Linked DNA regions of Homo sapiens. The protein of the gene in region 1 interacts with the protein of each later gene in a biochemical or structural test. Each region holds a gene or a part of one and is shown on either strand. Other genes may lie near its edges. The genes, in order: DOCK4, PPP1R9A, SIPA1L1, RHPN2, MAST3, MYO18A and MAST4.

What was found.
Region 2: the proteins of DOCK4 (region 1) and PPP1R9A interact in a test that uses a peptide from one of them, tested with the Homo sapiens proteins (one large-scale study listed by IntAct).
Region 3: the proteins of DOCK4 (region 1) and SIPA1L1 interact in a test that uses a peptide from one of them, tested with the Homo sapiens proteins (one large-scale study listed by IntAct).
Region 4: the proteins of DOCK4 (region 1) and RHPN2 interact in a test that uses a peptide from one of them, tested with the Homo sapiens proteins (one large-scale study listed by IntAct).
Region 5: the proteins of DOCK4 (region 1) and MAST3 interact in a test that uses a peptide from one of them, tested with the Homo sapiens proteins (one large-scale study listed by IntAct).
Region 6: the proteins of DOCK4 (region 1) and MYO18A interact in a test that uses a peptide from one of them, tested with the Homo sapiens proteins (one large-scale study listed by IntAct).
Region 7: the proteins of DOCK4 (region 1) and MAST4 interact in a test that uses a peptide from one of them, tested with the Homo sapiens proteins (one large-scale study listed by IntAct).

What each region holds. Positions count from the first base shown.
Region 1 is NC_000007.14:111,870,900-111,874,399, forward strand, and holds part of DOCK4 (dedicator of cytokinesis protein 4), read right to left. Parts: intron 1,666-3,500; coding exon 1,568-1,665; intron 1,454-1,567; coding exon 1,370-1,453; intron 1,192-1,369; coding exon 1,091-1,191; intron 1-1,090. UniProt on the Homo sapiens protein: Functions as a guanine nucleotide exchange factor (GEF) that promotes the exchange of GDP to GTP, converting inactive GDP-bound small GTPases into their active GTP-bound form. Involved in regulation of adherens junction between cells.
Region 2 is NC_000007.14:95,288,594-95,292,093, reverse strand, and holds part of PPP1R9A (neurabin-1), read right to left. Parts: coding exon 3,376-3,500; intron 2,004-3,375; coding exon 1,791-2,003; 3' UTR 1-1,790. UniProt on the Homo sapiens protein: Binds to actin filaments (F-actin) and shows cross-linking activity. Binds along the sides of the F-actin. May be involved in neurite formation. Inhibits protein phosphatase 1-alpha activity.
Region 3 is NC_000014.9:71,736,476-71,739,092, forward strand, and holds part of SIPA1L1 (signal-induced proliferation-associated 1-like protein 1), read left to right. Parts: intron 1-147; exon of another isoform or gene 148-294; intron 295-1,765; coding exon 1,766-1,850; intron 1,851-2,542; coding exon 2,543-2,617.
Region 4 is NC_000019.10:33,009,389-33,012,888, forward strand, and holds part of RHPN2 (rhophilin-2), read right to left. Parts: intron 3,337-3,500; coding exon 3,259-3,336; intron 2,416-3,258; coding exon 2,291-2,415; intron 1-2,290. UniProt on the Homo sapiens protein: Binds specifically to GTP-Rho. May function in a Rho pathway to limit stress fiber formation and/or increase the turnover of F-actin structures in the absence of high levels of RhoA activity.
Region 5 is NC_000019.10:18,142,778-18,146,277, reverse strand, and holds part of MAST3 (microtubule-associated serine/threonine-protein kinase 3), read right to left. Parts: intron 2,618-3,500; exon of another isoform or gene 2,516-2,617; coding exon 2,271-2,515; intron 1,813-2,270; coding exon 1,585-1,812; intron 1,276-1,584; coding exon 1,049-1,275; intron 536-1,048; coding exon 413-535; intron 1-412.
Region 6 is NC_000017.11:29,170,399-29,173,898, forward strand, and holds part of MYO18A (unconventional myosin-XVIIIa), read right to left. Parts: intron 1-3,500.
Region 7 is NC_000005.10:67,141,893-67,145,392, forward strand, and holds part of MAST4 (microtubule-associated serine/threonine-protein kinase 4), read left to right. Parts: intron 1-222; coding exon 223-345; intron 346-528; coding exon 529-641; intron 642-2,776; coding exon 2,777-2,904; intron 2,905-3,251; coding exon 3,252-3,487; intron 3,488-3,500.

The DNA.
Region 1 (3,500 bases):
GGCCCAAATTGTTAGGCTGAGTGGGCCGATGTTTCAAAACTATTCCTGCGGTTGCATTTCACTCTCAGCAAAAAATCACACTGATGAAGTGTCAAGTCTAACAAAAATACCTTCATTCATTTCGATGTTGGAGACGTCGATCTTAACCTGTCATGGCTGGGAATATCCAAGTAAACAGGATCAAATGCTTATCTGATAACCTATTAACCTTTATATATTACATAGATGGGGGAAGGATATCAACCTGATTTCATGCTTTTTAAACTCACCTCAGGGAACAGTCAGGCATGTGCATGCCCACAGGTGCTTAAGGTATAAGGTAGAAATATGGGAGAACAGCAAGGACCATATTGGACTGGGAGACAGACGATGGGGTACACTCCAAGGCTATTTAAGCAGTTATTTGTCGAACTAAAAGAGAGAAGCTGTGGCCTCTGGCAATTATCAACTATGTTGAGAGGAGGCAGGCACTAGCCAAAGCATAATATTATTCATAACTTTTCAGCACCACCTGAGCCAGTAGAAAAGGAGGAGCAGTTAAAATAGCAGCTCCTATCAAAGAGTAGATCCCAATGACTAAATTGCCTGAGGCCAGGGACCAGGTCTTCACATCATCAGCATAAAGTACAGTGCCTGGCAAGCAGCTGGCACTCAGTAAATCCTAACATAAATGAATGGATGACTTTCAGCAGGTGTGAAGGAAAAGGTTGTTTTCCATTCATATTTCTTTCTTATGAACATTTATAATCATCAGGGAGTACAGTGATGAAGTGGGACTCTTAACAGCCGAAGTGAGATAACCAGACATTTTAGACCAAAGAATATCCAGTGAAACAGAGACAAGAAGGAAAGACTTTATATTTTAGGGCTCAGGAATAGAATTCAGGAGGTTTTTTTCCCTTTTTAATCAAAATAAGTTCTACCCATTTAAAAAGGGTGTGTTAGCAGGGAAGAGACTATCTCAAGAGACACTTCAGTAGTGCTCCATTTCTTCCTACACTCCCTTTTAAATTTTCCTATATCGCCTCTTCTGCTGAGAAAAGCTTGAAAGGAACCACTTCTAAACTAATTACAAGATACAGGGCCTTACCTGTATGCAAGTGCCCCAGCAAAATGACTCTCAATGTAAGTGTCCATTACAGGTTTAAAATGATGAAATTTGCTATCTTGCAGCAAATTTATTATGTGAACCTAAAAAAAGAAAATTGAGCTTTATAAAACTAAATGCAAATCAAGGTTTTCCTTTTTTTTTTGCTTCTTTTTAAAATGAACTCTTACATTATTAAGCACATGTTTCTGAACCAGCCTCATGAAAGTCAAGATTGAGAGACAAAACAGTTAAAATACAATTAAGGGAATTTGAACTTACCAAAGAATCAAACACTTTAGACCCATATTTTTGGGAATTTTCATCTAAAATTCCAAATAAGGTATCCAGTGTATCCTGCAGAAACTGTTAGATAAAGAAGTAGCAAATGAGTAAATAAGATACTATCTGTCTTTTTCCTCCAAATGTTCTTTATTCTATGAATCTCTGCAAGGAAAATAGTAATGAAATACTATATACCTTTACTATCTCTGAGCCATCAATTTCTTTTAATTTAGAGAGACAGCCAGTGATCTTGTCTGGGTGGGTTCTCCATTTCAAAAGATCAAGCATATCACCTTTCAAAATAGAAAAGGAAGATTAATTGCCTTAATAGAGAACAGGTCCTCACATGAAAGCGTTCTGCTAGTAAAAGTAAAATTCTTAACACATGTGGCTCCCCTCTCCTAGCCACTCAAGTTGCAGGCTCCCACAAACTATGACTAGCCCTCTCTAGGATGGCATTTATTTCACTGTATTCTGTTTCCTCTCCACTGCTCTTGACTTACAAACTCCTACCCATCCTTTAGTCCTCAGATCGGATGTTGCTTCATTTTGGAAGCCTTTCCTGAAATCTCGAGCTAACTGTCCCTTCTACATGCTTCCACATCACAGTAGCACTTACAAATCCTTACAAATCAGGCAGGTGACAAATATTTGTTGATTAATTTTTCTGCCTCCTCCTGGAAAGATGAGAGTTTCTTGAGGGCTGGGAACCTGCTTTATTCCCGTTTGGGTGCCCAGCACATAGCACTCTGCCTAGCAACCAACTCCACCCAGGAACAAAGGTCTTCTTGGCAATGTGACCCAAATCTTGCAGACTAAAAGAATGGTAACAGGCCCAGTGATTTCTTAGATCATCCAGGGAGCTCTCAACCTGAGAAGAGCAGCTCCTGGACTCCACAGGCCATCTTTCATCCCAGAGTCCAGATAAGCACAGGGCCCAGCTCTTTAACCCTTTCCTAAACAGACATGAGGGCTTTGGTCCAGCAGGTCCTTAGAGAACCTCTTCACCTGGGGAGGGAATAAATTTATCTTTCTTGGGCAGAAGTTACAAAGGCTGTGGGAGATGGTCTCCATGCATTATTAGTCTCCAACGCATGCAGGGAGAGGTGGCATCTGGAGGCCAATGAATGCAGTGAGAACTGAAGGCTCGCGTGTGCCGAGCACGCGCAGGGCAGCGGGACCTGGTAGAACTGGCCTCAGGGCTCAGTGGAGTTGCCAGACTAGACTGGCCGAGAGAGGAGCCAGGACAGAATTTCCAGGCAGGGAAGCAGGAAATTTACTTCAAATCACTTGTTTTAGCAGAAACCCAAAAGGGACTTTCTGAGAAACAGAAAGATGATGAGGGAACAAAAACTCCAAACCCCCCAAACCAAGGAAGTAGGTAAGATGAGAAAGAAAAAGAGAATATAGAGAACACCAGTGAGAAAAAGCATTAAGAATCTCAAGGAGAAAGAGAAGCAAGCTCCACCAAAGCCAGATTCAAGAGAAAAACCTCACAAAGGATTTACTATTAATAGTAAGGAATTCAGTACCAAACAGGAATGTTTATCTGCAACAAACACGGGTAAGAGGAGGAGGAGGAATTAGAATGAGAAAAATAAAGTGATTTTAAAAATACTGACTTTGAAAAAGAGATTTATGATGTTTTCATAACCAAAAACCCTGAAAATGTTGACTATTCAGATGTAATTCAGACATCCTGGGGTATGACTGAAACCTTTTAAAACTGATTGGTTATATTTGGCATATCAGATATTTCCACAGAGTGAGACTCAGGGCGACAAAGGCAAAGCTCTATTGTTCTCCCCAGTTTGCTGCTTCCCTCCTACCTACTTCCTACTTCCTGCATCTCACTTCAGGAGGCCTCCCCTCCCTGGCATCTTCTCTTTCATAATCCCTCGTGCATTTCCCCTGCCATTCACTCCTCACTTCCCACTCCACCCCCATCCCAGCTCTCACTCCTCCTTTGTGTTCTCTTTCCCTTCCTTTAAAGTGAGGCAGTTGCAGGGGCCATCAGGACCCTGCTCAATGTGAGGAGTGTGGGGAGGAAGGAGGTGGCTATGCTGGCTACCAAGTGGCAGCAGTGGAGAATGAGGACTAGGGCCCATTTAAGTAGGGCTGGAAAACA
Region 2 (3,500 bases), about 17 Mb from region 1:
ATGTCAACGTTTCTGAGGATTGAATGAAGGGTCTGTACCTAATGACAAAAGAGCTGACGCATAACCGACAATACTCTGGCAATGAAAAGAAAACAGGCCTTGGGGGTAAAACAGAATTAAAAATGTCCAGTTTAGATAATTTCTGAATTCAGATTTTCAGATAAAAAAAAATCACACTGTTATTAAAATACAAGATGGGGCTACAAGGGAGTTCCCTTAATCTGTTACACTCAAAAGCCTTGCCGAGGCTCTAAATATGGAATACTTCTAGTGGAAGATACGAGATGCTGGGAACAGAGCAGAGATTCCCATAAAGTAAAAGAAGTAAAATACTGTCCAAGAATTCATGTGGCCTCAAGTCTTATTCTGAAACTTGTCCTTTGGAAAGTGGATAACCTCATTTTTAGAGTCAACGCAGCAAAGAGAACCAGATACATGAGCATAAAAAACAAAAAACCCTCATCACATGAAATTTCTCAAAACGAGTTTATTTTCTCCTTCTTCTGCCCCAGTCTCCTGCACTTGACTTAGTTTGGTGAAACATGGAAATCCTTAATGCTGGCTTAAAATTAGTATAAGTTCCTCCACTACTAAAGTATACCTATGCACTGCCTTAAACAAACTTTTTCTGTAAAATTGAGAATCTTTGAAGTATGGAAAGGAATGGTTCGGAAAAACCATTCAAAATCTCTCTAAAATGTTAACTGACAGTTTCCTCTAACTGGTATTTCTATTTTTCTTAAAAGTACATTTGTTAAAATACTAACTGAGCCCACCTGGGAAATCTTGAGTAGAAAATATGTGATGAGTTCCTGATTGTGACATAGGCAGGCTGAAGACCAGCCAGAATGTTCCCCAGGAGAGGAAACCTGAAAATGGTGGTTTCCTTAAAAATCAATTTCCTGTTCAATTTCTTGGGTTAGGTAGGGGGAAGAGGAACTGTGTTGTGTTTGCCAGTGTTGCTGAAATGCTGAACACACAGCAGTAGCAAGGTCAACAGATCCCAATATCCCATGGCTGCATTAATGTCTGATTTTTTTCTTTCTTGTTCAGCCGTATCTAGAGGATAAATATTACCCTCAGAACCCCAAGGTAATACCCACATCCACATTCTTAAGGCTTTTGCTTTTTTCAGTGGTTAACAAATAGCTATAATTTATTTTCTTTCTTTTTGATGCCTAGCAAGCAGAATGACTTGCTTGCCTTTTCCCTTAGTAGGTAACTACAGAGCAGAGCACCCATGTTTCCACAGCGGGGTGGTCTCACTGTCCAGACTGAGAATTAAGAGCAAATCTTTCCCACACATTGGAGTAGGTGTTGCAGTCCTAGAAGTTAAGTACTGGTCTCAGATCTCATGGCAGGGTGCTCTCTGCCATGCAGACATGTGCAATTGCCATTTCAGGATCCCACACTGAAAATTCACGGCGCTCCATTAACAACACCAGGGTGTGTCATGCTCTTGGGTGGGGTCACACTAGTTCTCCAAGTGACAAAACACACCCAACACAACACAAGATGTTGGTAAGTTAGAGAAGAGCAAAACACAGCTACTTAAATGAAATCTCTGGTTTGTTAATGAACCAAAGGTGGCTTGGGATTATTTTAGTAGTTAAAATTAAGAGTGCATTCTATTGCAGAAAATGCAGTTATTCAACACACAGTTCCTCAGCCGGCCTAGAGCCGCATTACCCTTATCATTTAGTTTCTTTTTCATCCTCTGGAGGAGAGCAGGGCAGGAAGAGGTGGGGACTTCTCTTGGAGCATCTCCATCATCTGTAAGAGGGTATGTGTTACTGCTCACCAGCACCCTCGGCTGTAGTTGACGTCATCTTTTCTGTCTTTTTGGACTTCCTCTGCATTTGCTCTTGCTCCTTTCTCCTTAGCTTTTCTCTTTGTTTTTCCATTTTCTCTTGGGCCTTCCGAGCCTTCTCTAGAGACATCTTCATTTCCTTGAGTTTCTTTTTGACCACTGCTCGGTCCTGGGATGCTGTCATTCCAAGAGCCTAAGAAAGAAACACACACACAAACTGAATTTGAAAACCAATGAGCCCTCTGATGGTGTTAACATACCATATATCCAAGTTCGTAAACTAATTCAAACATTGAAGAGGTAAGAACAGAGGAAGAACTAGTTACATTTGCTAAAAACCAACACACTGGGGGCTACCCTTTATTTTTTCTTTTGTTCTTTGAAGTCCCTTGCAAAGTATACCCTAAAGCTCATTAATTAAATGCTTTCCAAATGAGTAATTAATGGGTGAATGAATGGAAAAAGGGCACAATTCTACTTCTCCAACCTTTGGGCTGTAGGCATTTACGGGTAAAGGTATTGCTAAACTCATCAATATTTTCAAAGCATAGGAGTGAGCACCTGCTGTCACAGAGGGCTCCAAGAAGGGCAAGAAGAATTGAAATGGCTTCCTTTCTGCCAATGTTTTCATTACAATGAGAACCAAAAATGTCTTTGGGGCCAGAATGCTCGTGTCAGCATGACTAGCCATTCTTTCCCTGTAGGCAGACCTATAAAGGAAGTTGATTATAATGAGGAGGTTGCTCGATGAACTTAGAATTCAGAATAAGGGGAGTTGCTTATGTACTTTAAATGTTTCGTGACCTTCAGAATCAACAGCAGGATGCATCTATCTATCTCCCCAACAGGGACAGCCTTGTCAATGAGGCCTTCATATTCACAAGCTATTGATTGATCTCTAACCTTTTCAAGATTGTCAAGAGATACTCGTCTGCCCGTCAGCCCAGCAGGGGGCTGAGGCGGGGGTGGGGCTTGGGGGTACATGGAGTTGGCTGTAAGCACCTTTTTCCCTTTCCCAAAGGGATGGATGCCACCTTGGTCTCTAAGAGAGATGGACTGGACAAGTGGAAATGAAAGTGCCATGGAGGGGAGGGAAGATGTGTGTACATATTTGGGGAAAAAACTTCTGGGGAGAACATCATCCCAGTTTGGGAGTGGTGTGTAAGGAAGAGTGGAGGTGAAGGAGAAATGAACAAGGAAAAGAAGACTCGTGGATCTGGGTCTTAATTCTAATGTGATGAAAAAGTCCACAGTGGCCATTATTAAAACTCATACTACATCAGATGTAAGGAGAGTTAATATATGGACCATGTGTTGCCAGGTGGAAGCAATGGAGTGGGTCCCTCACTCTCCTAATCAGCAGCCTACCATTTGATTTGGAACCCCTGATGGACTTTCTGAGACTTCATTTACTACTCAGAAAGAATTCAACATCCTTTCTGCTGAATATTGATGAGAATTACCTCTCAGATATGCAGAATGCTCTTACCTAATGAAAACATTTTAGGTGATATGAGTAATACAAATTATACCTGGTAACCTAAGACAGACATATAATTCTTTACCTTAAGTTTATTTCCATCCAACTGCAGGAGCTGTTCTCCAGTGATGTTTTGGGCACTGAATTCAGATACATACTGCTCCAGATTTAGGCTCATTAACCAGTGAGAAACCTGCTGCACACTCCATT
Region 3 (2,617 bases), on another chromosome or scaffold:
GAAAGCCAATTGAAGTAAATGGCACAGATAAACTGGGGCTTGCCATTGAGGACTTCTCTGAACAAGTCTGCAAGGAAGTGCTCTCAACGAGAAGGCACAAGAATAGGGGATCATTTGTTATGAGTATAGGAGAGAGGCCGCACTTACCTCTGGCACTGCTGGGGTGAGGAGAGCAGCAATCAGGCTGACTGCTGAGAACTTTAAAAATGCATATCCCAGAAGCAAGCCCCAAATGTGCCTCGTTAGGAAGGAGCCTCCAACAGAGAGAAGTGTGAGTGAGCCAAGACTGTTTTCCTGTGAAAGGATTATTAAAAAATCAGCAGATGAGGGTGATGACAGGCTCTTTTCTTGGGTCAGCATGGACTGAACAAATGGAAATGGAGGTGAATAGACAGAATGCTCCTGAGCGTTGCTGCAGTCCTGATGAGCTGCAGTGGCTTTGCGAAGGATACCACTGCTGCCCGGCCCCAGCCTCGTTGTGTCTGTCCAGCACCGCCCCTTTTCTACCACATCCGTGGCCTTCAGCCCACCCAAAATCGGACCAGCCTGCCGTACCATACTATGCGGTTATGGACTGCAGCTGACCATGTCCCTTCTCAAACCCATTCATTGTCAGCTTTTCATTGGCCTTCCTGCCTTAGAGATTGGAGGTCATGGTCACTCCATCAGCCCACAGCCTTGCCACACTGTACACCACGGTGGGTTTTGCCTCCTGGGGCCTCTTGTAGACTTAGGATTAGCAGAAGACATCAACACAGTTCATCTGAGGTCAGGAATTGTAACTTGAATCTTTATTTTTAAAGTAAAGAATACCTTTTACTCCGTGACCTAGAAAATTCGGAGTCACTTAGCTCTTTCCCATTGGCGCTGGGAAGAGGCTCTGCATGTTTTCCCGATGGAAGACTTTGGGTTCTCTGTGGTGTGCCCCTGAGGATGTATAGCTTGGCTAGGAATCAGGAAAATTTGGCAGCTTGAACTCAGGTAGAGGAGAGTGTGGCAAGAAAAGTTGTCAGTTCCTCAGCCATAGGACCCTCGGGGTGAGAGCGTGCCCAGCCATGCCGTCTGTCTAGCTCGCTGGCTGGCCTGCCGTACCCCAGCTCACACTTCTTTCGGTACTCCACTAGCACGGCATGATTAGCGTGCCATAAACAAAAGAAAACATGAGAAAATGAGAAGAAAATGGTTTTTTGATCAGACTGGGACAGAATTTAAGACATTAAGCCTAGGCTAACAAGATACTTAGACCAGTGGTTTAAGATGTAGGCATGATACCTTAGCTGCAATTGCATGAGTAGCTAAGACCACACACTTGGGACCAGAGACGACCTGCCTATCACATCAGCTCCCCAGCTTCCTTCCCACACACAGGGGAGTAACTCCTCTGTCAAAGCCCACTAGAGAGATCCCAGAGCCTCCCTGGGAATCATTTTACTGTTTGACAATTATATCTGCCAGAAAGTACCTCTTGTGCTGCCAAAGAGACCATTTTCACTATTGTGCTTCATTCTTTAGTCGTGAGGATGCAGCATCTTTAACAAAGGAAGCTATTGATTGGCTGCAGTTCAAGCTTTTATTACCTTTTTTTAAGACTACCATTTTCTTTTTTAAAGTAAAAATACTCATTGGGTCGCCATACTGAGTAATTTGACATTGAAAACCATTTTATAAATACAGCCTCCTCAGAGTAAAAAAAAAAAAAAAAAAAAAAAAACAAACCCAGCCATGGAGGCCCCTGCCAACATGGTCTTTTGTTTCTTGTTCCCAGCAGTAAAGACTCCTCTCCCACTCTGGCTTCTAAAGTGGACCAGCTGGAAGGTATGCTGAAGATGCTTCGGGAAGATTTGAAGAAGGTAAACATGTATTCTCAAAGCAAATTGTCCAGTCTGTACAAACTACCCTTGAACCATGAGAGCCCTTTCTAAGTAGCATGGTAAAATAAGACGTGGGTGTCTTCCCGGTGCCTGCATGTGTTTGGGGATGCAGGGATTTCAGTTGCCACTGGAACACACAGCATGAGGAGGCGTTCGGTGTCCGGTGTACAGAAAAACTGTTCAATAATTTGTGAAAGGCTGTGAACCTCAGCCAGCACCATCTGGGTCCTCTCCCGGCCTCCCCACTCCTTGTGTAATGTGTCAGTAGCCCAGACCCCCATGTAGTCGGTGTTATTGGGGCTTTTGCACCAAAAGAACTGAATGTTTTGTTTTTTGGGTGGCCTTGACTATATATCAAGACATCAGCCACCAACACAATTGTCTAAAATTTAAGACAATCCTGACTAACAAGGATGTTAAAATACACATTAATGTACTTACATTCCAGGATTACTTAGAGCTAATCCTGCAGGGTTGAATCTCTCTAGAAGCCCTGCTCCCTGAGCTTAGAGTGTCTTAGCACCTGATACCAGTCCGTTTAGACAGGTGTTTGGAGGAACGAAGAATAGAAATGGACAAAAGATCAAAACGGGTCCATAGCTATTACTCAGAAGAGCTGGGCAAGGTGGGGCCAACACCTCTTAGCTTTTCTACTTCACTCTGCCTCCCAGGAAAAAGAAGACAAAGCTCACCTTCAGGCGGAGGTGCAGCACCTGCGAGAGGACAACCTGAGGCTACAGGAGGAG
Region 4 (3,500 bases), on another chromosome or scaffold:
GCAATTACTAACCCCTCATAATTCTTTCTGAAATCTAAAAACTCAGGATTTGTTTTAATTTGTTTTACTTTTTATTTTTTCAGACAAAGTCTCACTCTGTTGCCTAGGCTGGAGTGCGGTGGCATGATCATGACTCACTGCAGCCTCAACCTCCTGGGCTTAAGAGATCCTCCCATCTGAGCCTCCCAAGTAGGTGGGACTACAGGCATGCACCACCCATGACCGGCAAATTTTCTCTAATTGTTTTGTAGAGATAGGGTCTCACTGTGTTGCCTAGACTGGTCTCAAGCTCCTGGGCTCAAGCGATCCACCCACCTTGGCCTCCCAACCTGCTGGGATTACAGATATGAGCCACCACACCCAGCCTAGGACTTGTTTTATTTTTATTTTTTTTATTTTTTATTTTTTGAGACAGAGTTTTGCTCTTTCGCCCAGGCTAGACTGCAGTGGCGCCATCTCAGCTCACTGCAGCCTCCACTTCCCGGATTCAAGTAATTCTCCTGCCTCAACCTCCCAAGTAGCTGGGATTACAGGCACCCACCACCATGCCCAGCTAATTTTTGTATTTTTAGTAGAGACAGGGTTTCGCCGTGTTGGTCAGGATGGTCTTGAACTCCTGACCTCAGGTGATCCACCCACCTCGGCCTCCCAAAATGCTAGGATTACAGGCGTGAGCCACCGCACCTGGCCCTAGGACTTGTTTTAAAGTTTACTCATGAACCAGGGGGTGTGCAGACAGCTTCTCCCTAATTCATGACTAAGGAGAAACCACCTTTCGCCTTTTCGGCCATGCAGACAGCCTGGTGCATTGTTAGGAAAAGTCATCCCCCTTTCCTTTGCTTTCCATGAGGAAGGCATTAGTAGCCACCCATCAGCTGTAGAAACATTGAATTCTGATATGCCCCTGATCTTCTAGGATGTGTTCTCCTTTCACTGACACTCCTAACGACACTCAGAGAAGGGGTGCAGCATCTCCAAAGTACTTTTTTTTAGGTTGTTTTTTTTTTTTTTTGACACAGAGTCTCACTCTGTCACCCAGGCTGGAGTGCAGTGGTGTGATCTTGGCTCATTGCAACCTCTGCCTCCCGGGTTCAGGCGATTCTCCTGTCTCAGCCTCCCAAGTAGCTGCGACTACAAGGCACGCGCAACTATGCCTTGCTAATTTTTGTACTTTTTACTAGAAGCAGGGTTTCACCATATTGGACAGGCTGGTCTCGAACTCCTGACCTCGTGATCTGCCTGCCTTGGCCTCCCAAAGTGCTGGGATTACAGGTGTGAACCACCACGCCCAGCCTTTTTTTTTCTTGTTTGAAAAAGGGTTTCACTCCTATCATCCAGGCTGGAGTACGGTGGTGTGATCTCGGTTCACTGCAACCTCCGCCTCCCGGGCTCAAGTGATTCTCCTGCCTCAGCCTCACAAGTAGCTGGGACTAACAGGTGCATACCATCATACCCAGCAAATTTTTGTATTGTTTGTAGATATGGGGTTTTGCCACATTGTCCAGGCTGGTCTCAAACTCCTGGGCTCAAGTGATCTGCCTGCCTCGGCCTCCCAAAGTGTTGGCATTACAGGTGTGAGCCACTGTACCCGGCCTCCCAAGTATTTAAACTATACTAACCTTTGAAAATACCAATTGGGTCTACGGCCATACCACCCTGACGTGCCTGATCTTGTCTGAAAATACCAATTGTGGAGAAGAATCAAATGCTCTACTTCCTTTTTTTAAATCTGATCTAAGCTGAGTGAGTAGCTCATGCCTATAGTCCCAGCTATTCAGGAGGCTGAAGCAGAAATATCACCTGAGCCTAGGAATTCAAGACTAGCCTGGGCAACACAGTGAGACCCCATTTCAAAAGAAACCTGATCTATTTCTGTTTGGTGCTTTTGCCTCACTGGATAAGACCTGATTTTCTCTCTCTCTCTCACTCACACATACACATGCATGCCCCTGTCCAATCTGAGATAAGAATCTCGCTTCTGGCTAATTCCACTTCAGAGCCCCCGTGCTTCCCCAGTGATACAACGAGCAAGAAAAATGTCTCTTCTCCTTGGCTCGCTTGTTCTGAGAAGCAAGAGGCCACAGTCTGTTGGAGCCATCTCCCCTCGGATCACCTTCATAAATAAATACCAATGTATTGACATCTTTTGAGACTTCCCCAGATAAATGCAAGATAGGAAAGGGGGCTGAGGTGCACAGGGGCACCCGCAGAGGGGCGTCTGTGATGCTGAGGCTCCAAAATTGTGGCTGCCATAACACGTGAAGCGCCAGCGCAGACCTCAAGCACCTACCAGGTGAACAGGAGTCCCATCTGCCGTGTGGGCGGGAAGAATCGACTCTCGACAAAGCCCAGCTGGATGAAGTATGTCATCAGCAGTTCCACCCCGGCCTCATCCCGGCTAGGCGTCCGACAAGCCTGCAAGGAAAAGAACCCAAGAGGGCATGAGCAGAGGAGGACACAGCTGATGGCCCTTCCCAGAAGGTGCCCTGCACATACCAGCAGGTGCCTGTAACTATTTCTGCAGTATGATGACCTCGCTACTGGCATCGTAAACTCTGGGAGGGGTGGAAAGAACCTGGGAGGAAGTCAGAAATCCTGGAATCCAGTCCCAGCCCTGAGGCAGGGCTCTCCCCTTCTATGGTTTTCCTTCTTTTTTTTTTTTTTTTTTTGAGACAGAGTCTTGCTGTCACCCACCCAAGCTGGAGTGCAGTGGTGCGATCTTGGCTCACTGTAACTTCCACCTACCAGGTTCAAGTGATTCTCCTGCCTCAGCCTCCCGAGTAGCTGGGATTACAGGCGTGTAGCACCATGCCTGGCTTGTTTTTGTATTTTTAGTAGAAACAGGGTTTTGCCATGTTGGCCAGTCTGGTCTCAAACTTCTGACCTCAGGTGTTCCACCCGCTTCAGCCTCCCAAAGTGCTGGAATTACCAGCATGCACCACCACGCCCAGCTAATTTTTGTATTTTTAGTAGAGACAGGGTTTCACCATGTTGGCCAGGATGGTCTGGAACTCCTGACCTCAGGTGATCCGCCCACCTCCACACCCCAAAGTGCTGGGATTACACAGGCATGAACCACCGCGCCTGGCCTCCTTCTACAGTTTTCTTATGCAGCAAGTGGAATGGATGATTCCAGCACCCCCCAACCATCACCTCTATCCACCCGCGATTCTGTTAAGACCACAAGCGTGCAATAATGGGGTTCCCTGAAGACTCGGAAAAGCCACCCTCCCCTCTCTGCTGCACACAAAAACTTACTTGTCTCAGATCCATAAGATCTGCAATTTCATCTTCATATAAATAGCCATCTTCACTGTAATGTTCCAGGATAAAATCCTTAAAGAAAAATGAGGTCAGATGTTATAAAGTGTGGCTGAAAACCATATGTGTGCATAATAGTAATATGTCAATTGTGAACCCATTTTTAAAAAGGCAGAATAAAGAAAAACTTATAGTGATTTTCAAAGTGGGGGAATTTATTTTCTTAATTTATGTAGTTT
Region 5 (3,500 bases), on another chromosome or scaffold:
TGCAGAGATGGGGGTCTCGCTCTGTTGCCCAGGCTGGTCTCAAAGTCCTGAGCTCAGGTGATCATCCTGCCTCGGCCTCCCAAAGTGCTGGGATTACAGGCGTGTGCCACCGCGCCCGGCCCTTCCTCCTGTCTTGAGCCCATCTCCTACCTCCAGGCCTCAGGCCAGAGGGAGGAACAGATGTGAGGGTGCCCAGGGAGAAGGGAGGGCTTCCTGGAGGAGCAGCTCTAAGGGGTGATGTTGGGGGCTGAAGAAGGACATGTATTCTGGGCCGAAGGAAGTGGATGTGCCAGGCCTGGAGTTGACATTGAATGTGGGGTTGTGTGTCTGGACGCGGAGAACCACGGGGAACCGGGAGCTGCGGCCAAGGGGTGCTGGGGAGCCCTGAGGGTGGGCAGTGGGGGTGCCGCACCTTCAGCAGCAGCTCCACGACGTCCATGTGCACCAGCCCCAGCACTGACTCCCCGTTGATGTGGGTGATGAGGTCCCCAGCCCGCAGGCCCGCCTCCTGGGCGGGGCTTCCGTCCTCCACACTCTGGGGGCAGACGAGAACGGTGGGGTCAATGGCCTGGGCCCCACATCTGGGGACCCCAGCCCAGGCTGGGTCTGCTGTGGGACCCCAGCAAGCTGCTGCCTCTTGTGCTGTCTCAGTTTCCCTGATCCTGGGGGAACTCCTACTCACCCATCAAAGCCCCAGCTCCTACGCCCCCTTCTCCAGAAAGCCTTCTGTGTCTGTTCAGGGAGCAACCAATAGGGAGGGCATGCCTCGACGCCCTTGGGCTGGGAGAGGGAGGATAACATGCCCAGTGCGTCCCCATATGGAGCTGGGAGGTTAATGCCACTTGGGATCTGTGAGCTTCCATCCATCCATCCTTGTCTCTCTCATCTGACCTCCTCCCTGCCAAATGACAGGGACCGAGATGAACTCGGTGGCACCAGCTCTATCTACCTAACCCTGCCAGGCTCCAAAATGCAGCTCTGAGAAGGGACATGACCGGGCAGAGTCAAACTAGAACCCGGGTCCCTGCCATTCCCACTCGGCACTCACCCAGACGACGTGGTGCACAGTGTAGACGTCGCTATCACCCATGTAGACGCGGATCGCCCGCAGGCTGAAGCCGTACTTCTTGCCAGAGCTGTGGATAACGATGGGGGGCCGCAGGCTGCCACACACGGGGGACGGGTCTCGGCTCGGCGAAGAGTCACGGGACGACGGGTTCGAGGACAGAGAGCGCGGGGAAAGGGGGCTCATGAGGGGGCCGCCGCTGCCATCATCTGCAGGGGGTTAGGGAGGGGGTCACTCACTCCCTCACAGGTCTCCCCTGGGGCCCCCTCTTTCCCACCACAACGACCACCCTGGCCACTTTGCTGTTGCTTCAATGTCCCAAGCATGGTCACCCCACCAGGCCTTTGCACGTGCAGTGCCCTCTACTGGGAACACCATCTCCCCAGCTCTCCATGTGTCCTACTCCTCCTCCCCTCTTCTGGGGCTCATCCCCAGCCTCCCCAACTCAGGAAGGGCCCCCACCCTGTTGGTGAAAATGGGTGCAGACAGACAAAGGTGAGAGGGGCCTTGGGCATTACCTGCCGTGATGATGAGGGACAGGGCAGAGACAGAGGCTGACTTGGGCACGCGGCCCCCACTGCCGCCACCACTGCCACCGCTGGAGGAGGCTCTGGACTTCTCAGGGGCTGGGTCTCTTGGGCCCCCAAGGCGGCGGCCCCGGCCGGCATCCAGAGGCCTTGGTGTGGAGTGTCGGGCGCCGATGCTATTGCTCCGTAGGCGGGCGTGGCTGAGAGCAGCTGTGTCGGCTAGAGGGTCAGCAGGGTCAGCTGGGTGCCCCTCAAACTCACCATGTGGTCCTAAAGGGACCTTAAGGCCCTTCCTCCCTGGTCACTATTTACACAGTCCAGCCTCCTGGCCTTTGCTCATGCAGTTCCCTCTTCCTGCACTCCCTTCCCAAATTATTCTCTATGCAAAAGTCTTCAAGTCCCCTCCTCCAGGAAGCCTTCCTCCACACCCATTTAGACCCTTAGTTCCCCCATCTTGGGAGCTAGGGGTCCCATCCTGACTCTATGAAGCTGGGGGCATTTACCCTAGACTGGGGTTCCTTGGGGGCTGGGGGTCTCTCTGGGACCCTGGCTTCTCCTCTCTTAAAGCCTTTGTTGGCTCTGGAGAACTCCTACTCATCCTTGAAAACCCATCTCAAATAGCCCCTCCTCTGGGAAACTTCCATGACATCATCCCTCTTACTCAGGGCCCCACTTACCAGAAAGGCTCGAGGGCTTGGGCATCACTGGGGTGGCCGCTGGTGGGGGGTCAGGCTCCCCTAGAATGAAGACGGGCCTCTTGGGGCCTGCAGGGCCTGGGCCTACCCCCTCATCCTCTGATGAGAAGGCAAACTTGGGCATTGTGTCCAGGCTGATGGTATTCAGGAGAGATGGGCTGGGACCCCGCTCGGGCTGGGACGAAGATGACTGACAGGAGGATCCAGAGGATGTCCAGGACCTCAGCCTGCAGGGAGGAAGAGCCTGCATCACCCCTGCCAGGCACCTGCACCCCAGGATACTCAGCCACCTTCATGGCCACATCTTAACTCTCAGTCTGCAGTCAAGGGTAATTTGCATAGACAGGACGAGTTCCTTCTGTCTGCACTGTCCTCTCTGTCCACCTGGAGACCGCTTATTCACCTTTTTTTTTAAAGACAGGGTCTCACTCTGTCACCCAGGCTGAAGTGCAGTGGTGCAATCTCAGCTCACTACAACCACTGCCTCCAGGGCTCAAGTGAGTCTCCTGCCTCAGCCTCCCAAGTAGCTGGGATTATGGGTGCCTGCCGCCACACTGGGCTAATTTTTGTATTTTTAGTAGAGACGGGGTTACACCATGTTGGCCAGACTGGTCTTGAATTCCTGAGCTCAAGTGACCTGCCTGCCTTGGGGTCCCAAAGTGCTGGGATTACAGGCGTGAGCCACTGCACCCGGCTTCCTATTCAACTTTTAAAACCCAGCTTCCAGGCTGGGTGCAGTGGCTGACACCTATAATTCCAGCACTTTGGGAGGCTGAGACAGGAGGATTGTTTGAGGCCAGGAGTTCGAGACCAGGGCGGGCAACATAAGGAGACCCCATCTCTGCAATTTTTTGTTTTTTGTTTTGTTTTTTTTTTTTGAGACAGAGTCTCGCTCTGTCACCCCGGCCGGAGTGCAGTGGCACGATCTTGGCTCACTGTAACCTCCGCCTCCCAGGGTCAAGCAATTCTCGTGCCTAAGCCTCCCAAGTAGCTGGGATTACAGGCGTGCACCACTATGCCCGGCTAAATTTTTGGAGTTTTAGTAGAGATGGGGTTTTGCCATGTTGACCAGGCTGGTCTTGAACTCCTGACCTCAGGTAATCCACCTGCCTCGGCTTCCCAAAGTGTTGGGATTACAGGTGTAAGTCACTGCACCTGGCCTACAAAAAATTGCTTAAAAAATTAGCCGGGTGCCGTGGTGCACGCCTGTAG
Region 6 (3,500 bases), on another chromosome or scaffold:
AGATCTGCAATGCGACTGCTGCTCCATGGCCTTCTTGTAGACCTTGCACTTTCCGGCACCTCCTGGCCTCAGGTCCAAAGTCTCCAACAGCTCTGATACCACTACCTTCCTACCCCCTATCCCGGGCTGCAGTTTCCATCTGCCTCCCATTCCTCTCCTACCCTCTCCCTCCACTCCAGTAAAGGTAACCTTATAATTTTCCTGACCTCCTTTTCTGCGTTTCTCTCCTCATCATACTCTAAGAAGTTTTTCCTAATTTTAAGAAAAGGAAGGCATCTATGTAAGTTAGGGTATGGACCCGAATAATCTTGCTCTTACTATCCCCAAAAACAAAAAGAAAGTACAATCTGTCAACTCAGCTGCTCTATCACTTTAAGAGAGTAAGCATCCCGAAGGCAATGACCATCAACCTCAAATATACATCTATCTGTCCATCAGAGTGCATAAACAATGCTCATATTCATGCAATGGAATACTACTCAGCAAGAAAAAAGAAACAACTAAAGATACACACAATGGGGATGGACTTCAAAATCATGATGTCAAGTGAGAGGGAAAGAAGTCTTTGACAAAGAGCACATATGGGTATGATTCTCTTTATATGAAGTTCTAGTGCAGGCAAAACTAACCTATGGTGGGGGTAGGAGTGGGATCGCATGAGGGAACTTTTTGGGGTGATATTCATGTCCTGTATATTGATAGCGGTTTGGGTTGATAAGTATATGCACTTGTCAAGTTATCAAATGGTGCACATAAGATTTGTGCGTTCAGCCAGGCGCGTTGGCTCACGCCTGTAATACCAGCACTTTGGGAGGCCAAGGCAGGTGGATCATGAGGCCAAGAGATCGAGACCATCCTGAAACCCCGTCTCTAATAAAAATAAAAAAAATTAGCCGGGCGTGGCAGCACACACCTGTAGTCCCAGCTACTAGGGAGGCTGAGGCAGGAGAATCGCTTGAACCTGGGAGGCGGAGGTTGCAGTGAGCCAAGATGATTGCGCCACTGCACTCTAGCCTGGGAGACAGAGCAAGACCCCATCTCAAAAAAAAAAAGATTTGTGCATTCATTGTTTGTAAATATCCACTCAAAAGAAAAGAACTATAAACAAATATTGAACTCTAGTGAATGATATGTATGTTAAAGTATTTGGGGCGAAATATACTGATGTCTACGTTTTACTTTGAGATGTGTAAAATTTTAAGACAGCTTGATGAGGTTGGGCAAGGTGGCTCACATCTATAATCCCAACACTTTGGGAGGCCGAGACGGGCAGATCGCTTGAGCTCAGGAGTCGGAGACAAGCCTGGGCAACATGGCAAAGCCCTGTCTCTACTCAAAATACAAAAAATTATCTGGATGTGGTGGTGCATGCCTGTGGGAGCTACTTGGGAGGCTAAAGTGGGAAGATCACCTGAGCCTGGGAGGTCGAGGCTACATTGAGCCACGATCATGCCATTGCATTCCAGCCTGGGTAACAGAGTAAGACCCTGTCTCAAAAGAAAGAAAGAAAAAAAAAAAAAACCATAGCCTGATGGATGGATCAAGGGATACAGATGTGTAAAAGCAAGGATAGGAAAATGTTAATTGTAGAATCTAGGAAATGGAGGGTATTCGTTGCAAAATTCTTTAACTTTTCTGAATGTTTGCAGGTCATTGTGATAAAATTTTGGGAAAAAATATGTATCTATCAGCCACTTCCTAAAGGCAAGCAACATAAAGATAAGTAAGCCCAGTGTCAGAGCTCAGGCTTTGGATATCAAGTAACAAACCTGTGAACAAATCTGAGTAAACAGGGCCGGGCGCAATGGCTCACGCCTGTAATCCTAGCACTTTGGAAGGCCGAGGAGGGCAGATCACCTGAGATCAGGTGTTCGAAACCAGCCTGGTCAACACGGTGAAACCTTGTCTCTACTAAAAATAGCTGGGCATGGTGGCATGCGCCTGTAATCCCAGCTACTCAGGAGGCTGAGGCAGGAGAATCGCTGAAACCTGGGAGGCAGAGGTTGCAGTGAGCCGAGATCATGCCACTGCACTCCAGCCTGGGCGACAGAACAAGACTCTGTCTAAAAAAAAAAAAATTAAATAAAAATGAAAAAAAATATGAGTAAATAGCTATGAAATCTCAGGCAAATCACTTAAGGCCTCCATGCCTCCATTTCCCCATCTATAAAAATGGAGATAATAATGGTACCTACCACCTAAGGTGGGGGAATTAAATGAAATATATTTAATTACCCTCAGAGAGGTACCTAATAGTAGCAGGGCACAGTTTTTGCAGTCTAAATGACACAGTAGAGAGGATAACAGAGTACACAAGTATGACTAAAATAAGTCAAAACCTTTGTACATGGAAAGTAAAGCCCAAAGAAGTGAAGGTAACTTGATAAGCACAAGGCCAAGCTGGATCACACTGGCTTGAGTCCAGAGGGCCCACGTAGCTAGTGCCAAGGATACTATGGACAGGCAATTTGTAGGGGCAGAAATACAAATGGCCATCAAACATGAACAGGTATTCAGCCTCCATAACATTCACAGACATGTGAAATTGAGGTATACTATTTTCAATTAGCAGTTTAGTAAAAACTATCAAGGTTGATAATATCAATCAATTAGGGCATGGGATGCAGGGAGTCTCATAAGTCTTGGTGGAAACACAAATTGGTAGGTTGGTGCAAAAGTAATTATGGTTTTTGCCGTTACTTTTTTTTTTTTTGAGACGGAGTTTCGCTCTTGTTGCCCAGGCTGGAGTGCAATGGCCCGATTTCAGCTCACTGCAATCCGCCTCCCGGGTTCAAGCAATTCTCCTGCCTCAGCCTCCTGAGTAGCTGGAATTACAGGCATGCGCCACCATGACCGGCTAATTTTGTATTTTTAGTAGAGACGGGGTTTCTCCATGTTGGTCAGGCTGGTCTTGAACTCCTGACCTCAGGTGATCTGCCTGCCTCGGCCTTCCAAAGTGCTGGGATTACAGGCTTGAGCCACTGCGCCCGGCCCTTTTTTTTTTTTTTGAGACGCAGTCTTGCTCTTTCACCAGGCCAGAGTGCAGTGGCACGATCTCTGCTCACTGCAAGCTCCGCCTCCCGGGTTCACGCCATTCTCCTGCCTCAGCCTCCCGAGTAGCTGGTACTACAGGCGCCCGCCACCGCGCCTGGCTAATTTTTTGTATTTTTAGTAGAGACGGGGTTTCACCATGTTACCCAGGATGGTCTCGATCTCCTGACCTCGTGATCCGCCCGCCTCGGCTCCCAAAGTGCTGGGATTACAGGCGTGAGCCACCGCACCCGGCCTGCCGTTACTTTTTAATGGCAAAAACCTCAATTACTTTTGCACCAACTAATGTATTTTCAGAGGTCAAGTCAGTGGTATCTGTGAAAAAAAAAAATTTTTTTAAGAGACAAGGTCTTGCTTTGTCACCCAGGCTGGAGTTTGGTGGCTCAATCATAGATCACTACAGACTTGAACTCCTGGGCTCAAGTGATCCTCCTGTCTTAGCCTCCTGA
Region 7 (3,500 bases), on another chromosome or scaffold:
AAACAGTGCCATAGCAACTGCTGTTAGCAACATCAAATCTCCTACTGATAAATTATCAGAAAAACTTGTGGGGCTTTGGTTGTAGAATGAAAAAGTATGATTTTCATGTCTGTATTTCTTTGCTGATATGTTCTCAAAATTGTTGTTAAAAACTGATGTTTGCCTTTGCTTAGTGGGGATAGTTTAACACTTTCCTCTCTGTCTCTACCTGCCCCCTTCCAGGTGGTGCATATGAAGTCAAACAGCATCGATTCTTCCGTTCTTTAGACTGGAACAGTTTGCTGAGACAGAAGGCAGAATTTATTCCCCAACTGGAATCTGAGGATGACACAAGTTATTTTGATAGTATGTGCTTTATCTGACATAAAACATTGTTTGGCCTTTACTCGATAAATAATTATCTTTGCTTTTGAACCTTTTCATATCTCTGAGTTCTTAAACATAATGTTGATCCAGAAAATCATAATTAAAATATCTAAATGTTGAAAATCTGAGTAATTGGACCTGTTCCCAAACATTTCACTGCAGCTCGGTCTGAGAAGTATCATCATATGGAAACGGAGGAAGAAGATGACACAAATGATGAAGACTTTAATGTGGAAATAAGGCAGTTTTCTTCATGTTCACACAGGTTTTCAAAAGTAAGTGAAATGTGGCATAAACATACAGAGTCTCTCTGGGAGGATCTCCCGCTGGCCAGATAGTATCCCCGAACAGCTGGACACTTACCGTTTTCCAGGGTTTGAGGTCTCCTATGCTTAAACTTCCTTTTGTTGAAGAAAAGTGACCTCCTCAACTTATAGTCTGTCCCTATCCCCTAGGCCTTTAGACTGCCATTTTACCTTCTCTCTTTCCTGTGAGACAACAGAGATTCAGATAGCTGAGACCTTGGGCTTACCTGAGCTCTGATCCCCTTCAGGAACCCCGGCACCAATATATTTCTCTCTCCACAAATTAAGATATTGTTTTCTTAGAGGCATAGCCTTGCACCCACAGTCTTGTTTTTGGAGTGTGTGACTGCTACTTATATGATGACCTTGCCTTGAACGTCTCTCACCTGGCTCAATGCCAGGCTGCAGAGGTATCACTCATTGCTTTCAACTCAGGATGAAGAGCGCGAGCTTCACTGTGTACAGAGTCATCTCCGAGGGATTACACAGAGTACAACAAAAGGAGAAGGCTCAGTCCTTGACATAAGCAAAGATACCTGCGGACAGTTGACTGTAGGATTGTAAAGTCTCATAACTGCCAGGCATAGTGGCTCACGCCTCTAATCTCAGCACTTAGAGAGGCAGAGGCAAGAAGATAGCGTAAGCCCAGCAGTTCAAGACCAGCCCGGGCAATATAGTGAGACCCCGTTCTCCACAAAAAGGAAAAAAAAAGCCAAAAAAAAAAAAAAGTCTTGTAACCAATAAACAGAAATTATAAGCCATATTGAAAAGGCAGTAGGAAGCCAAGCTAGAATCATTTAGATAATTGATGCTTGAGAAAGATGCCTTTTTACCAGTACAGTAAAAGTTAAAAAAAACAATTAATCAAAACAAAGAAAACTGATAGTACTGAGACAGAACAAGGCCCTAGGAAAAACGGAAATCAACCTGAGGGCACCCTACCTCCCTTTTGCTATTTTCAGTAGCTATATATTTTCTGTTGCCATGGCATTTTGCATGATTATTGTTTAGCTTTTCTATAACATTTAGTGATTTTAAAGTGCTCCGTAGCTTTTTCTAAATGATTACCTAGATGCACCTGCAAATTGGCCAGCACTACCCTCCTGTGTATGGGAATGGCATCGAGGTAAGGATTTCCCTGGAGAAGGTGGTAGCCAGTCTGTCCTAGAGCCAGGACAGAAGCTTTGCTAAGTGTGGACTCAGACCAGGACTGTTCTCTGGGCCATCAAAGACAACAATGCCAACCCCTAAACACTGCTTCCTTCTTTGCCTTGGTGGGTATTTCATTTTCCCACCATCTCCTTTTCTGTAGCCACTTTCCTGCTATTCCTAGTAGATTATAGGAGGCCTGAGGACCATTCCCATGAGAGCAGCAAGTGTCTGAGCAGGGCAGTAGGGAGCGCTTCCTGCCCTAGGCTCTTAGACCCCCATTTTACCTTCTCTCTTATGAGACAACAGAGATTCACAGATAGCTGAGACCTTGGGCTTACCTGAGCTCCGATCCCCTTCAGGAACCCCGGCACCAACATAGGAAACTGCCTGTCTATAGATGTGATTTGTAAGCGAAACAAATACCTCTGGCTCTTATAACGGAATATGTACTGCATCCTTGCCACACCACCACCCAGTCTTGAAACAGATAATTTATTCTTCTGTTTGCACTCAATTCCAATTCATTTTTCTTCTTCCCACCCCTGACTGGTGGCCATTAAATCTGTTTCTCTGTTATTTTCTTTTTCCAGTTGACTTCATGGTTAAAAAGTAATCAAGATGTGCATTGATCCCAAGGCCTAGAAACTCCACTGCATCTGTGGATTTTGTTTGCAGATACAAAGTCCGCAACAAGATATGATGAGAGGATGATGAATTCATAGCTCCCTATTCGTATATATGTACACACACACACACACACACACACACACACTCACTCACCCTGACCCTTCCTCTCTGGATTCTGGTTAACAACACTGGAAAGTACTTTCTGAATACACAATATTAGTTCAGAATTTAGTTATCCTCTCAGGTTTTTCTCCCAAGACTTGGAGTGTTTTTCTGACAAACTCTTTTTAGTAGATATTAATAAGCACCAATTATTTGCCTTCCAGGTTTTCAGCAGTATAGATCGAATCACTCAGAATTCAGCAGAAGAGAAGGAAGACTCTGTGGACAAAACCAAAAGCACCACCTTGCCATCCACAGAAACACTGAGCTGGAGTTCAGAATATTCTGAAATGTATGTGAAATGCCTCTTAAGTAATATAAGCAGTAGCTACTAGAGCAGAGTTTCTTAAACTTTAGTGAGCATCAGAATACCTGGGGGGCTTGTTAAAACACAGATCTCCCACTTCCAGAGTTTCTCATCCAGTAGATCTAGGGTAGGGCCTGAAAATGTGCATTTCTGACAAGTATCTAGATTATGCAGATGTTGCTGCTGTGGGTACCACACATTAAGAACCATTGCACTAGACATCTCTTGGTTAGGCTTATCCAAGTCCGATTTTCACCTGGTTTCTTCCAAAATTCACCTTTAACACAGTTTTCTAGTATGTATATATGACTTTGTTTTTGCTTTTAATTAAGGCAACAGCTATCAACATCCAACTCTTCAGATACTGAAAGCAACAGACATAAACTCAGTTCTGGCCTACTTCCCAAACTGGCTATTTCAACAGAGGGAGAGCAAGATGAAGCTGCCTCCTGCCCTGGAGACCCCCATGAGGAGCCAGGAAAGCCAGCCCTTCCTCCTGAAGAGTGTGCCCAGGAGGAGCCTGAGGTCACCACCCCAGCCAGCACCATCAGCAGCTCCACCCTGTCAGGTAAGCCCCGGGC